Regions from separate parts of the Homo sapiens genome. Here region 2 is linked to region 1. The links come from fine-mapping of genetic effects on gene expression. A gene starts in region 1. The other region holds a variant in brackets. All regions are shown on one strand. Distances are from middle to middle.

The links. PIP is the estimated chance that this variant, and not a neighbour inherited with it, causes the effect.
Region 2: its variant is fine-mapped to the expression of FGF9 in gastroesophageal junction (GTEx, PIP 0.98).

The regions. Positions count from the first base shown.
Region 1 is chr13:21,669,930-21,672,429 of GRCh38, forward strand. FGF9 (fibroblast growth factor 9) reads left to right here and starts at 1,144. Exons shown (of 3, transcript NM_002010.3): 1 at 1,144-2,260. The coding sequence starts at 1,984. RefSeq lists silencers at 1-221, 1,002-1,051, 1,072-1,131.
Region 2 is chr13:21,883,188-21,886,205 of GRCh38, forward strand. No RefSeq gene overlaps it. Among named protein-coding and RNA genes, the nearest start is that of LINC00424, 6.5 kb to the left of the region's middle. The variant T/C (reference allele first, on the strand shown) is at 1,209.

The DNA of each region.
Region 1 (2,500 bases):
GCGCCCGCCGCCACTGGGGATCCGGGCGCAGGCAGGCTGTCCCGGGCGCAGAGCGCGCCGCCTCCAGTCTCTCTGGCGGGCCCGGCCCGGCAGGGCCCCTGGCGGCCCCCGGAGGCGGGTTTCTTTGTCCCTGACTCCCGCTGGGCGCGAAGGCCGCCGGCGGCTAACAGAAACCCGAGCCCGCGCAACGGAGCTCAGGCTTCCACGTGCGGCCCCGCAGGGCAGAGCAGGAAGGAGCGGCTGCAGCCCCGGGGCGCCCCGCAAGCATCCAGTGCCCGGCCCTCCCAGCTCCGCGGCGGGCTTCGGACGGTGGAGTGAGACACCAGAACTCGCCTTTCGCTTCCCCGAGCCGATGCACGGCTTGGGATGGCGCCGCTCGTCCTAAGCAGCGTGGTTTGAGGGCGAGAAGACGCCTACTGGAGCGCTCCCCTCCACCCAGACTCCCGAAGACGCGCGCCCGAGTCGAAGTCGGGGACAGAGAAGGTTCTCTGGCGCCCCCCTGCCGACTGCTTTGCGGCCGCCGGGACCCGAGCAGCGGGGCGGGACCTAAACATAGCCCCAACCCAAAGATGCCCAGCAGAACGCTCCAAACAAAACAGAAACGGTGGCCGCATCTGCGTGTGTGTGTGTGTGTGTGTGTGTGACGGGGGAGAGGAGTTGATCTTACCTGAAACATAGTTTGCGCTTCTGTGTGTGTGGCCGAAGAATGGAAGAGAAACTGCCATGGCCATCCGAGTCCATTAAATCAACTCCCCTTCCCTCCGACTCTCTCAACTCAGTCATATTCTATAATACAACGCAAGGTTACAGAGCCCCAGTGAAAACTAGTTTCCCAGTTTCACTCTGACCCTCCATCAATGTAGCCAGCCAGCTAGATTGTAGGTTACCGGCTTCTATTCTGCAGGAGAACTTTGAGTCTCGGGAGACTCAGGGTTTCTTCCTCCCGCCTCTCGCAGTGCATCTTTCATTTGCTTTTCTTTGTAAAGCCAGGGCTCCTCGACTGCCTCCCAGGAAGTCCTGCGCTCTGGCGCGCCGCACCTCGCCTGCCGCAGAGCGGCGCGGGCAGTAAGCCGGGCGCTAGGACCGCGGGGAGCCCGGGCTGCGGCGGCGCTACCTTAAACCCAGCCCAATGCCGCTGCCTGCGCCACTCTGCGCGCCGGCGGGGGCTGCGCAGGAGGAGCGCTCCGCCCGGCTACAACGCTCCGCGAGCCGGCGCGGCAACACCTGTTCGCGGCAGCCTGGGCGGCACGCGAGCTCCCGGACGCGGCTCTCCTCGCTCGCCGCTCGCCACCCGTTCTAAGCCAATGGACATCTGCCGAGCCTCTGGAGAATCCTGGATACTAGCTTTGGACGCCTAAAGTTTCTTCTTCTTTTTGTTTTATTATTATTATCATTTTTTGGAGGGGGGACCGGGAGGGGAGATTTGTCGCCGCCACCAACGTGAGATTTTTTTTTCCCCTTGAAGGATTCATGCTGATGTCTGCAGAGTCGGTTAGAGAGTAAAAACAGCGCATGCCTTCCTGGAGTCAGGATCCGTAAATTCTGACGTAGCCCGTGCATCTTAAAAATCCCTATAATAACGCCTAGGCATTTAAGTTGCTATGGTCATTCTGATCTCAAACCAAATGGAGAAACTACGGATTTTTTTTCCTTATTACGGTCGGATGGGATGAAGACCTTCCTGCCTGCTAAGAGCTGGGGATCTATCTATAGAGATACATAGATATGTTTATCAATATGTCAGTGTGTGAGTATAAAGTGGTGGTTTCTTAGACTATCAGTGGTTTGACCTTGAACCTGTGCCAGTGAAACAGCAGATTACTTTTATTTATGCATTTAATGGATTGAAGAAAAGAACCTTTTTTTTCTCTCTCTCTCTGCAACTGCAGTAAGGGAGGGGAGTTGGATATACCTCGCCTAATATCTCCTGGGTTGACACCATCATTATTGTTTATTCTTGTGCTCCAAAAGCCGAGTCCTCTGATGGCTCCCTTAGGTGAAGTTGGGAACTATTTCGGTGTGCAGGATGCGGTACCGTTTGGGAATGTGCCCGTGTTGCCGGTGGACAGCCCGGTTTTGTTAAGTGACCACCTGGGTCAGTCCGAAGCAGGGGGGCTCCCCAGGGGACCCGCAGTCACGGACTTGGATCATTTAAAGGGGATTCTCAGGCGGAGGCAGCTATACTGCAGGACTGGATTTCACTTAGAAATCTTCCCCAATGGTACTATCCAGGGAACCAGGAAAGACCACAGCCGATTTGGTAGGTATACCATTAACCCTTTAGTGTCCATGAGATGACATGTTGAAATTATAACTACCAAGAAGGTGGTGGCCGGGTGGGGGACGTGGGAAGGGTTCTCCCCTCCTCCCCTCTTTCTCTGTATCTCTGTCTCTCTCTCTCTCTGTCTTGCCAGCTCCGAAAAAAAAATGCCTCCGGAATTGCAGATCTGCTGCTGGCACTGATGCAAGTATACACTGAAAGGCCCCCTACTTTTAATTT
Region 2 (3,018 bases), 210 kb after region 1:
GAAGTAGGCTCAGTTCTGGGATCCCTTTCAGTCAGTGAATAGAGGACAGAGTTTGGTTCAGACACTTTTAATATGGTACCATTGCAGGGTTGGAACATTATTTCTCCTATTCTAATTTGTTCATAGTAATATGTAAAAGCAATACAAATGCTTCAGATTTTCAGGTTTATGAATAAAAGAGAGCAGATATTCCACCTGAGAACATGCCCAGTATTCTTTTATGGGATGGAAGGGGGTCCCTATGCCCACATATATTAAAGAGCGCACCTGCCTTCAATAAGCCTAGATCAGCATATATAAGAGAACTGCATGCCAAATTTGCCTTGTAAATCAGGAATAAAAAGAGCAGACGTGTTTCTCGGCAAGGGAAAAAGTGAAGAGGTGCAGTTGAGATTTGTGAGCTGAAAACGATCAGTCGAGCCAATGAAATCCTTGAAACATTCTGTACAATCGCAGCCACTTTCAGATTTTAATATTTCAGAAAAATAATCATTGCTATTGTGTAAAGTAAAATATGCTAAATGCTCACAGCCTGTATAGAGCTATAATGCCTTATGTATTGTACTATTAAGAAATAAAACCTGCCTCTTCTATCCTCATGGAAAACAGAGGACATATGTAACTAATCAACACATCCCAGTGAGATAATCCATTTACAGCTTGGTAAGAAAACTGATCATATTCTGTGGGCGACTCCCCATCACCCATTTCCTCCAGCCTGACTCAAAGTCCTGTTGGAGATTGTGATTACACTTTTCTTATCCCTCAGTGAAGAGTCAGTTTCTGATGCTGTGTCTGCCATTGTGTGTGTGTGTGTGTGTGTGTGTGTGTGGTGTGTTGACTTATTTATTTAGCTCTGTTAGGCTCAGAATCAGAACAGCACAGATTTGTAGGACAATTTGTCATTTTCTGGGACTGAGAAAAGATGAAGAATTCATCCATAGGGGCTACTTTTGGTGGCTTGGAATCAGAAAGGTTTACCTAGCCCAGTCTGTGCAGATGGAATTTCTAGAAGTCTTTTGGAGAGACCAGAAAGCGAATGAAAAAATGGTACATTTTTGATAGGAACAGAAGAAAATGATGTGTGAATTCACCTAGTTATGTGGGACTTGATGAATCCAGATGGACTCTAAATCATTCTTTTATTTGCTGATTAGTGCCAGGGGTTTTGAGCCTTGTAGAGGGGCACAACACTGAAGCTCTGACAT[T/C]AAACAAACTGGTTTCAGTCCTTGGTTCTCAGTCAGGGCAGCTGTAAAATCAGATATGAGGACCTGAGACTGAGGAGCAGATGTAGTGTTTGCACTGGGCCTTTATGGTAAACAAGCTGCTCCTGGGCACAGCCCTTCACTCCTGCCCCCTCCCAGCCCGAGTTCATGTTCCTTATTGATGCTACTGAAAGAAGCTTCCTGGGGAGCCCAAAATGCATTCTTCGTCGGGCCATGTTAATTATTGTTTATAATCACCGAATACAGTTTATATCCAGATCTGACTTGGAAAGTAAGCTCAGGCAGGGGAGAGGATCTGAGAGTGGATTGCATACTTGGAATTCTAAATCATCGTTCCTTGTTTTAATTTTCCCTTCAGGAGGATGTTCTTGGCCCTTCATGGGCTGGGTCACCTCCAGCTTGCACATTAATTCACAATGGAATTTCTACAGGACAAACAGGAGGGGGGTGGTTTAGGACACTATTGAAAACTATTTAACTCTCTTTGGTCTCAAACTGGAGTCGACAGGCATTAAATGCACATGGGCAAACATATTGACACATGATTGGCTGTTTCAGTAAGCAGGGCCTTTACAACAATTCCAAGCTGTTGACACTTTAAGAGAGCACTCCTTCCTCCCAAGTTACACTGGAGGATGCCTTGAATCTGTCTACACACTCAGTGGCTGCTCCTAAGTCTCTGTGTGGTGACCGACGTCGACCAGGGTTAGCAGAAGCTGTTGAGAACACAAGGAAGGAAGCTTCAGGGAGCTGACAGCCTGGGCGGCCAGTACACCTCACCTGAAAGATGGGGCATGGGCCAGAGCTTGGACACCAGAGTAAGCCCTGGCTTTGAATCCTAGTTCTGTGACCTTGGTCAAGGAGATTAATGTTTAGTAGCTTTGGTTTCTTTATCTGTAAAACAGGAATCAGAGTGGTAGCGACACTGCAAGGCCCTTACAAGAGGAAGTCAGCAGCTTTAGAGTCCTTCCAGCTTTTGTTCTGAATTTGCCTGGTAACTGGCTTTCTAGAAGAGCTCATTGCTGGATGGTTTGACTCCATAGCACGCGAGGAGTTTCGGCACCTGCTACCATCCTCATTATTCGTTCACATGCTGGATAGTCCATGGAGTGGACAGGCAGCAAGAAGGATAGCAGCATGGAAGTAAATTGTGGATTTGTCAGCACCAGTGCTTTATTTGGACAGTTTTGCTGGAACTCAGCTCCTTGTGACTGCACCATTCATGAGTGAGTTCACTCAACAAATACTGACTGAGCACCTGGCAGGTGGCAGGCATTGTTCTGTGAGCCAAGCAAAGTCCTTGCCGTTGCGGATTTACCTTCTAGCATGGAGAGAGAGAACAAACAGATAAATATGCAATATGGCAGAGGGCAGTCCTCACTGGAGGGAGAGATTAAGAAGGGTAGAGGGTAAGGAGTATTGCAAAAGGGGTGTGCAGTGCTTCTGTCCATGGGGTAGTCGGGGCAGGCATTTCTGGTTAGGCACGGAGGCAGGAAGCTGGGCCGGGCTCTGAGGAGGACATTCCAAGCAGGGATGTAGCAAGTCCGAGGACCCCGAGGTGGGAGCTGACTTGGTCCTTTTGAAAAGCTTCAAGGACTGTGATACCTGGGAAGCAGGGAGAGCTGGTGAGAAGTGAGTTCAGAGGCGGCAGGAGGTGGGCAGACCACCGTAAGCATCCTGGCTTATTTCTCTGGGTGGGAGGGGAAGCCATCGGAGGGTCTGAAGAAGGCAAAACTGAGATCTCTGCAAGGAAGCTGCCATGATTGTCTGGGGAGAGAGGATGATGGCCGGG